Linked DNA regions of Homo sapiens: region 1 is linked to region 2. The links come from fine-mapping of genetic effects on gene expression. Tissue or cell type: subcutaneous fat. Region 2 holds a variant in brackets; the other region holds the start of a gene. All regions are shown on one strand. Distances are between the middles of the regions.

Region 1 (5,093 bases), 320 kb before region 2:
AGTGGGCTGCGCTGCTTGTAAATGAGTCAGACTAGAAGCCCATAGGCCAGGCCACTCAGGCAGGTGGCCTCCACCCCAAACACATCGTATCTACAGCAACGTTCACAAACATCAGACCTTGGTAGCAATGACCTACTGCCACCACCTGCCCCAGCACTAGAACAGGTGAGAGGAGTGCCTGGGGAAGAACTCAGCCTGCCAGTCCCTAAGAGTCATCAGCAAACACTTCAAGAGGGCGTTACCTGCACCAGGCCCACCCTAGGCCCTCCATTCAGAGAACTCAGATGTGCTGTGACCACTCCCATTTTACGGGTGAGGAAACTGAGGCCACACACCTAGCGAAGGGAGCTGGGGTGTGTACCAAGGCAGGCAGGCTCCAAGGCTCACCATCCCCTAGGTGGTATGGCCTCTGCCAGGGATGGAGAAGTGCAATCTGCCTTCTCTTCACTCCCTTGGCTTAAACGCAATCAAATGTCTGAAAACTGTCATTTCCCCAGCCTTCCAGACCCAGGAAGCCCAAGGCCCTCTCCACTTCATCTCCACGGACTACCCACCCCAAGCCAGCCATGTCCACTCACCCGTAAGTCCGCTGGATCAAGGTGGGGTGCAGCTGCTGCACCCCAATGGCAAAGCCTAAAACGAGAGAACAATCAGGGACTTGGCCTTGCTGCACGAGCCACGTCTCAAGGGCTGCACACAGGGTGGCAGAATCCCACAAGCCACACACCTCTAGTCAAAAGGGATCATCCGCTTCCTCTCCCCTCCCAGGCCTCCCCCTTGTGAACCCCAAGGCACACCGCTGAAGTGTGGCAGTGAGTGACGCAGGTGTCAGCAGCCACTGGTGTCGGCACTCCCAACCTCCAGGCCCCATGGCCACTTCCTCCCTCCTGCGAGGACAGCTGGCAACTGGGGTGCAGTACCCTCCCTGCCCCCCGCCCCCTTCTTTGGGCCACACGCTGTGAGAAGGGGTCTAGATCCTCGAGGGGGGGATGGCTGCCCTGTGCCGGCTCTGCAGGCACATGATAGCCGACTGCCACTGCTGGGGCGAGGAGGGGGGGCCTCTTTCCACCCGACAGATACCGACACCCAATATAGAAACCGAGAAGAGCCAGGCAGGAAAACACAAGCTCTCACCCGTCTGGAGGCTCCGCGGCTTGGCGCCCAGATATGCCAGGTTCACGTTGGCCTTGCGGCCGTCGATGATGGGGTTCGGGTCTTTGCAAGCCCTCTCAGCTGCCGCCCGGTCGGCCATGGTCACCTGGTGGAGCAGAGACACATCAGGGGCTGCCGTGGGGGGAACCAGGGGCGAAAGGGGCAGACGGCTCCGCCCTGGCACCGGATGCTGCCACCCCTCTCTTCCCTTCCTCTGAGGGTGCCTGTGACCCAGGGTCCTTGAGCCAAAGCTCCTCTGAACCCTACCTGGGGCTCTCCCACAAAGATGCCTCCTGGATTCCAGCTCCTCCCGTCAAAGTTCAAGGCCTGGGAAATGTGGCCTTCAAGGACAAAAATAATCCCCTGCGGGGATAGGGCAAAAATGAACCCCGAAGGGAGCTTGGGGGGCCGCCTGGACTTGCCCACCAGTGAGGGCCGAGACTTTCCTCTGAGAAGGAGTTTGCGACGCTATGCTTGGAAGGTAAGCAGGAAAGTGTCTTCAAGACGTTTTTACTTAAGCTGATGTTTATTTGGGGCGGCTGAGAGGGCTGTTAAAAATATGGGGGAGGCCGAAGAGCTCCTAACACCCCGGGGTGGAGCCATTGCTCCTCACCCCCCGCTGCTCCAGGAAATCCCGAGTGCCCTCTGGCTCCAAAACCTCCCCACCAACTTAGGAGTCCTAATTGAACACAGCGGCTCTTCCTTTTAAACCGGGGGTGGGGGTGGGGGTGGGGGTGGGGGTGGGGGCCGGGGCCTGGGGTGGTGGGGGCGGGACCGGCAGGAGCGCGCCCGGGAGAGGCGGCAGGTGCGGGCGCCGGCTGGAGGCGCCTGGGGCGGGGGCGGCAGCGGGCCGTCTGGGCGTGTGCCCCGGAGTGGACTCGGCGCCCGGGCCGCGATAAGGTGTGCGGCGGGGTGCGGGCCCGGGCGCGGGGGCCACTTACGAAGCCGTAGCCGCGGGACTTGCCCGTCTGGCGGTCGGTGATGACCACGGCCTCCTCGATGTCGCCGAAGCCCTCGAAGTACTTCCTGAGCGAGGCGTCGGTAGTGTGGTACGGCAGGCCGCCCACGAAGATCTTGGTGAACGTGGTGTCCTTCTGCGAGCCGTGCATGGCGCCGGGGGCGGCCAGGGGCCGCGGGAAGCCCGCGCTCGGGGCGCACGGCGCGGGCTGCAGCAGCATGGGGGGCGCCCCGCCGCCTACGGACCCGGGCCGCGCGGGGCTGCGCTCATGGGGGGCGGCGGGGAGCGCGCGGGGCAGCGAGGGGCGCCCGTCCAGCCGCCAGGCCCGACCACTCCGGCGCCCGTCCCGCCGTGCGCGCCGACGTGCGCCGCGCTGCGCTCCCGACCGGCGCTGCGGGGACTCTGCGCCCCGGCACCGCCCCCGGGCTTTGTAGCCTGCCGCCCCCGCCAGCTCAGCCCCGCCCCCAGCCGGCCCCGCCCCGCCCCGGGCGCGCGGGGACCGCCGGGAAGCGTAGTTCTAACCCCGCCCAGCCGCACCCGGGCGCGCGGCGATTGGGGGGAGGGGGGAGGGGAGCGCACGCGGGCTGAGGGCGGATCCGGGCCTGGGGGCGCTGGGCGCGCCTTTCTCTCCTGGCTGCCCCCGCGGGCCCGGCCGGTTGCAGGCACTAAGCACAACCCTGAACTAGGGAGGCCAGGCCCCTTCCCTCGTGGAGCGCACCGTCTGGTGAATTAAACGTAAAAAACGTAAAAAAACGTAAACGGTTTTTAGCATCTTGTTAATTGAGTCGGTATTTAACCCAGGGCGACTTAGGGAAGAGCCACGTGCCATATTAAAAAAGGGAAATGATTTCTGTTTTATATGTAAGATTAGTTCATCCGACCGATATTTACTCTGGGCGCGAGGCTGCAGCGGAGCACAGATCATATTCCCTGGCCCCACGGAGCGTCCAGGACTGAGAATTCGGCTAGTAAACATACAGCATACGACCCCGGAGGGAGCTACACCACGGTGCCGCGATAGAAGCGGGTCCCGGGCGGTCTCAGAGGCCCCGCGGGAGATGAGGTGGGCAGAGGAAGCAGGTGTGGGCTCTTTCCAGCTCCACCCCGTTCTGGGCTGGTGTCAGGGACCCTTGGGGCGAGTAAGAGCAGACCCGGGTCCCTCATCCGGCCCCCAGCCATAGAAAGGCGGCGCATAGTGGGGCTCTGTGAGCTTCACACCAGGCAGGGCCAGCCACAGAATTTTCGGGGCCCAGTGCAAAATGCAAACGCGGGGCCCCTTATTCAAAAGCTAGGAATTTCAAGTTGGCAGCGGTTGAGCATGAAACTCAGCCCCGGGCTTTCCTGAGCGAAGGGAAGGGCCGTGTGACTGCACAGACCCCGGGATCCCGGACCTGCGGGTCACACCCTCCACCTCTGAAGCCGGGACTAGGGGCCTCAAGCCCGCCTCATCTCCAGCCCCCGCGGTTGGGACCTATGCAGCTGGGAAACAGCAGCTCTAATTGGGGTCACTCCCGGCCCCAGCCCTGCGGCCTCCTCTCAGCACAGGGCGACGCAGGTGGGGTCTGTGGGGACTGGGAGTGGCACTCCGTGGGCTGTGGGGGACCGCAAGGCCGGCGAGGAGTTCCCCTCGTTTCCTCCAGCACCGAGGAGTTCTCCGCGTTTCCTCCAGCCCTCTGCCCTGGCTGCCGGCGGGGAGGAGTCTGCCCGCCCCCTCCCCCACTCCACGGCCCACGCTCCACGCGGCAGCCTTGACCTCTGACCTCTCCCTCCCCCAGCTCCCGCTCTAGCCCTCTGCACAGTGGGGATGGGACCCCCGAGTCTTCCGGAAGCCTGGGCGTCCTTTCCTCCCTTCCCCCTTCGTTCCTCGTTCCTGGCGCTCCTGCCCCCGCTTGCGGCCCCCGTTGCCCTTCATCCCGCGTGGTTTCCTCTCCTTCCTTCGCGGAGTTTCCCACCTCCCCGGCCCTGTGTGTTCGCCTGCCTGGAGCCCCTCCCCTGCTATTTGGGCGCTGCGAGAACAGGGACCTGGGATGTTTTGCCCAAGCTGGAGGGCCTGGCAAGGAGAGGGCTCTGGGATATGTTTGTTGAGTGTATCCACGATGGAACAAGGTGGGGTGGGGGAAAGCTCTGGCCCAGCCGGAGGCCCTTCGAAGCGACTTTGAAAACTTTCATTTAAGTGTGACCTTCACTTGCCCCCTAGAGGCCGGGGGAGGCGGCCACTGCGCGGCCGCGTGCTTTTGCGCCAGCTGGATCCCTTCACCAGGCCTCGGTTTCCCCTTCAGTTTTTCCAAGGCTGTCCCCAGCCGTCGCGTTGCCTGGGCAGGCTGGAGCCGCGTCGGTGGCGTGGCCACGGGCTTCAGCCCGGAGGCGCCCGGGCTCCCGGCCTACAAGTCCCAGCGCCGCCCGGGCCCGCCTCGCCCGCGCCCCTCCCGGCACGACAGCCCCACAAAGGGGTGCGGCCGCTCGGCTGCTGCCGCGGGGGCCGGGCCCAGGCGGCAGGGCAGCCCCGGGGCCTCTGCCTGCCCGGAAGGGGGCGGGACAGGGCCGTGGAGGCTGGAGACGCGGTTGCCCAGGTGCGGGTCCAGTCGCACTCCTTCGCCCCCCGCCCCCGGGCCCCCTTGGGTATCTGGATCACCAATCCCTCCCCCCCTCCGGCGGCCCCATGTCTCCACGGGTCACCAGCTTCTGCCTGACAATCAGTCATTCACCCAAACACACACTTTTTTTTTTTTTTTTTTTGAGACAAGGTCTCTCCCTGTCGCTGGAGTGTAGCGATCATAGCTCATTGCAGCCTCGACCTCTCGGGCTCCAAGCCATCCTCCTACCTCAGCCTCCCAAGTAACTGGGATTACCGGTGCGTACTACGATGCCGGGATAATTTTATATTTTGTGTAGAGGCTGGTCTCGAACTCTTGGGATTAGGCAATCTTCCTGACTTGGCCTCCCAAATTGCTGGGATTACAGGCTGAGCCACTGCACCCAGCCT
Region 2 (5,093 bases):
CGCTCTCAGCAAAGGTCTATGCTTCTATGCGTATGATAGTGCCTTGCTATGCCAGGCGTGTGGGGAGTGTGCCATGCTATGATAATGATTATTAAGAAATGGCTTAATTAAATATGTGTGATTACATTTATTTCATTATTAAATTTCAGAACCAGGAATGGTAGCTGGTCTCAATGGTTCTACCCAGGACCCAACTGCTGTCTGTCAAATAGGTGTTTGTTCCAAGCAAAGACCTGGGTACTCCCACACTGCGGCTGGAGCCAGCCCTGCAGTAGCCCCACTCCTTCCGAGAGCCCCTCACTCACCCTTCTGGGGGCCTCATTGAGGAAGGCTGAGCAAGAGAATGACATTAAACTTCAAACGTCTCTTTGTCTCTGAAATTAATGGAGAAGAGAAGTCTTTAATGGGTTGCAGACTTGTCTGTGGGCTACAGTGACATGACTCAGCCCAATCATCCTCCCAGCTCTGGCCATCTTGGCTTAGCTGTTTACCAAGAGACCAGGGGATGGAGATGTTGAGGGCTTAGGGTGACGGAGGCAGCACCAAACCTGCACCTCCAGCCCTGGTATGCTGGCATTCAGGAAAGCTGTGCTCGCCTAGCGTGGTCTCCAGTTTCCTTTTGGGGAGTGATGTAGTTCCCTCCTCTCAGGAAAGCAGTAACTCAGTCCTGCCTGGCAGTGGGAGAAGGGCTGTAGAGAGATGTAGAGAGGTGTTTCTTAGCCTGTCACATGCCCAGGAGTTCCCAAGGGATCCTGTGAAAATGCAGTTTCTGACTTGGGAGGTCTGGGGAGGGGTCTGGGACACCGCATTTCTACAGAGCTCCCAGGAAATGCTAAGGTTTCTGGTCCGTGAGCTGTAGATTGCAAGTTGCAATCTGACTTAGGGTATATTCCCATCAACACACCCGCACATACGTGCACACACAGGCTGGAGGGGGAGGTGGAGGGTGGGCATAGAGCTATCTGGGGCTGACTCCAGCTCCACTAGGATTCACCTGTGTGTCTTGGAGCAAGGTAGTCCATCTCTCAGAGCTCCAGTTTTCTCAGCTGTAAAATAGGAGGAAAGCCAGTGACTACATCAGGCTGTTGTGAGGATTAAAGGAGATCACATGTAAGGGGGTTTATGATGAGAAAGGGCCGAGAGAGGAGAGACAGCTAGATGGCGAGAGAGACAGAGAGTGAGGAAAAACACACACAGAGACAGAAAGACAGGGAGAGAGACAGAGAGCCAGGGCGCCAGCAGGCAGCATTCCTTTTCAGACTCCTCTGCACTGTGTGAGTGCCCTAACCGGTTCCTTCCCTCTCTCTCCCCGCTTTCCTTTGTGTATTTATTTATTTACTTGTTCGATGGTTCATTTATTTGTTTTAATACCCCCCGACATCATCTGGGCCATGACATTCTGAGCCACATGATGGAAGGCTCAGGAATTGTTGTAAAGTGTCACTTACATCTCCGATGTTTGTGTGAACAGCACGCACGGCGGTGACAGTGATAATGGAGGTCACGTGAGCTCTCTGATGTCTCATCAGGTCCCGCTGGGCAGCCAGTATCGGCTTGTAATGATCCCTGCAGACAGGTCAGGGGAACTTGCCACAGCGCTGGGTCTCAGTATAGCACTTGCGGTAGTTTTTATTCTCCTCTTTGCATTTTTAGAAGTATTTTCCTAAGTGTGTAATATTTTAATGAAACATAATGTTTGTTGTTAGGGCACATGTAATGAGGACCCAGTATGGGCTATATAGGCGGCTAACCAAGAATGTAATCAGTGTTCCATTCAATCTGCGTGTTCAGTCATCGCTGGAACATCCCAGCCTGTCAGATACCCTCTGCACTGTCAGAAATTCCCTGCATTACGCTTCACGCCTTCAACTCTTGAAAGCCTGATTTTTGGAAGGGCAGGGGTGACTCAAAGACAATTGTTGCCTTTTGCAGCTGATTCTCTCCGTAATATGGAACCCCAGGATTTGAGACAGCATCAGTGGCCGCCTGCCATGATGCCCCAGGAATGTCTGGTCCATCTCCATAAGCCAGGGCTTGGCAGGAGCTTGGTTTGTGGATGAGCCAAGTTCTTGGGTGGGACCTGCTATGATTTGAGCACTGGGGACTGGTCCCTAAAATCTCTCATGTCCATGTTAAAAAGAACTGTTCTCTTGATTGCTACTTCTCCAGCAGTAAAGCACTCACCTAGGTGACAAGATCTCAGCTGTGACTGGGCTGAACATGGCATTGGCCAACCAAGCTCTAGAGGTTCCCATCTGTTTGGGGTCAGCCCTGGAGCAGAGGAAAGTCTTTTAAACTGGAGAAGCTGGGCCACACATTCCTGGGGAGAAGAGTGACCCTTGGAGGCCAAGTTTCTCTTCATCTCATGGAAAAGGTGGGGGCATTGGGCGAGGTGGGGCTGGGAAGAAAACTCAAGTCAGCTGCCAACAGGCCAAGCCCCCCCACCTGGGAAGAGGCTGAGAGAGCTGCCTGGAGCCCATAAAAGCCAGTCCCCCTCAGGGCTGGCTCCAGGGTTTATTAAATACTAGGCCTTCTAGACTAGGAAAAGACTAAACAAAATGTGGTTTTCCTCTGTGAACTGATTGCATCTGGGGGTGCACTTCCCGAAGACCAGTCTGCAGGGATCCCTGGCCTGGTGTAGACATTCTGCCCCTTGACCCTGGTCTGAGGCCCTGGACTAGGGTCACTGGCTTCCCTGAGGACAGCCCATCAATGCCAGGAGGGGGAGGGGAGTGGGTCAGTAGCTTAGGGAGGGGATGAGGATGGATCCACAGGCCCCGTGTTGTTCAGTGTGGAAGCTGGTGGGGCCTGGGCAAAAGGAGAAGATAAGAGTCTAGTCCTGGGATTGCGTCCTTCCCTGCCACAGCAGCTACTGTGAAGACCAGGTACTTAGGAAGAGTGGGACCACTCCAGCTAAACCAAGTGACCCTGTCTTCCCGGAAACTGGGCGGTTCCTCTCCTGCGATGTGGGGAAGGGTGAGAATGGGCTGGTGGAGATGCAGGTGGAGGGCAGGTGGGAGGATTCTGAGGCTCTGCGGCACTACTTTTGCACCCTCCCCTCATTTTCCAC[G/A]GTGATTCATTTTCTTTTCTTTGAGTTATCGTTGGAGTAAGAAATGCAAACAAGGCAGCTACAGTCCTTAGATCCTTAGGTCAGACAAGTAGCATTCGCAGTCACAGCTGAGTGTCTTGGCCTGAATACTGTGGCCGGTCAGAGAGCAGCTGGGCGGGGACCTGTGAGCAGATTCCTGTCCTTGTTCCTGTCCTGTGGCTGAGACCATCCATCCGGGGCCAAATGGTGGATTCCCTCTTCTGTCTTAGGGAAGTTTCCTTTTCGCCTGCAGGAAACCCTTGGGAGCAAGCACAGCTTTTCAGAACCCATTCTGACAAATTACAAAATAAGACTTTTGCCCCAGTTTTTCTCTGCACGATTTGACTTAATGTCAAATAGTGTCATTGGTCTTGATGAAAGTTATTTAAAAGAAAAAGTGAAATTGTCCATAAAAGCCTGCAGTTATAACCAGAAGTATCTGGGTTAGGTGAAGCTACAAGTTACAAGACAGTCTTGTCCCAGATTCCTAGGAAGAAGGGGATTGGCTTCAATCCTACATGCTTTGCTTAAGATTGATTTATCTCAAATAAGTATTGAGATGCATTTATTACCACCTACTACCTATCAGCTGCTTAGCCCTGTAAACTTCTATAAGCATGCCCAAAAGTCACCTCCTCAGTGAAGCCTTCCCCGGCTTCCTCAGGTTGCCTCTTCTGCATTCCTATGACATTTTATTCACCTGTCTATCACAAGACTCTCCAGTTTATGTATTTCTAATAATAAAGTAACCTTAAGGAAGCTGTGACCCATGAGGGTCAATGACCAAGACCTTGGAGAAGTGATGTGTGCAAGATGCACAGTTCTGCAGCCAGAACGATGTTTGAAAGCACCTCCATTTGCTACTTTCAAAAGAACATAAAGAGCGTAATGGAAATTCATCATGTTTGGTTGCCTGGCCCCATTTCCCCTTCATAACCATGACAGTTTTGATTCAAGGGCTTGCCCTCCTCCATTTACAGATAGGGCACTGGGCTTACAGCACCCCTCCCCTCCACACAAGACAGACAGAAGTAGGCACATGAACCACACCAAGTCAGTCAGATAGCCCACTTTGGAACCTGAGTCTCAAGCAAAGGGACAAAGAGGCTGACATTGTTGGTGTTTCATTCCATCGCAGAAACTGCACCTTGATCAGACTGTTTCTGCTACCTGCCTCATAGCCTGCAGCCTGCCTTGCTCCTACTCATTCTCAGTCCCACATCTGCAGCCTGCCCTCAGTTCTGTGATGCTTCCAGTGAATTCCCTTTTTCTAAAGTCAGCCAGGACTGATTGCTGTTGCTTGCAACGAAAGAATCCTAGATCACTCAAAGTTCCCCAATGCTTGACTTCCTGCCACTTTTTTCAGATCCCCTTTTCCTTATTCTCCCATTGTCTGACACTTATGTTCCCTAAGTGTCTTCTTTCCTCATCTCCAGTGCCATTTCCCTCCCCCATCCTGCAGGAAAATTTTACCTTTTCTGCCCACTCTTTTCTCTCTCAGCTCTTTATTTTGTAGATTGTCTTAATCAGTCTCTTTAAAGCCTTTCTCTGTCCTTCCATCAAATCCAGGCTTTCTTGACCTTCTGGCATCCCAGAAAGGAGGTCCAAGAACCCAAAGGGTTTGATAGAGAGTGAGTCTCCCCAGAGGGCAGGAGACAAAGTGATGGTTGAACTGGACTAACGCCCCTTTGGCCAGCAAAGGAGGGGTTGTTGGTAAATGCCTCATCTTTACTCTGTCACATGAGAAAGGCTGCCACAGGTGAAGAACTTGTGTGCCACTCCCACACTCATCTCCCCTCATCCTGCCAATGAGGGAGACTTCCTTCCACCACAGTAATTTTACGTGTCAACTTGATTGGGCCACAATTAATGCCCAGATTAAACATGATTCTTGGTGTGTTGGTAAGAGGGTTTCCAAATGGGATTAACATTTGAATTGGTTCACTTAGCAAAGCAGATGGCCCTCCCCAATGTGGGTGGGCCTTGTCCAAATTGTTTAAGGGCC

Alleles and levels. Positions count from the first base shown, and alleles are read on the strand shown. Sizes are in standard deviations (SD) of each study's normalised expression.
In carriers of allele G in region 2, the expression in subcutaneous fat of the gene that starts at base 2,516 in region 1 tends to be higher than with A alone (large effect, 1.2 SD a copy in FUSION).

Evidence for each region. PIP is the estimated chance that this variant, and not a neighbour inherited with it, causes the effect.
Region 1: it holds the start of RBM38, and the variant in region 2 is fine-mapped to the expression of RBM38 in subcutaneous fat (FUSION, PIP 0.93).

The regions. Positions count from the first base shown.
Region 1 is chr20:57,388,819-57,393,911 of GRCh38, reverse strand. It overlaps RBM38 (RNA binding motif protein 38), which reads right to left and starts at 2,516. Exons shown (of 4, transcript NM_017495.6): 1 at 2,094-2,516; 2 at 1,135-1,258; 3 at 579-633. The coding sequence starts at 2,330. RBM38-AS1 (RBM38 antisense RNA 1) reads left to right here and starts at 856. Exons shown (of 2, transcript NR_149006.1): 1 at 856-1,633. RefSeq lists enhancers at 854-1,043, 1,798-2,297, 2,298-2,799 and silencers at 1,894-2,083, 2,434-2,833, 4,444-4,823.
Region 2 is chr20:57,067,794-57,072,886 of GRCh38, reverse strand. No RefSeq gene overlaps it. Among named protein-coding and RNA genes, the nearest start is that of BMP7-AS1, 140 kb to the left of the region's middle. RefSeq lists an enhancer at 1,231-1,794. The variant G/A (reference allele first, on the strand shown) is at 3,071.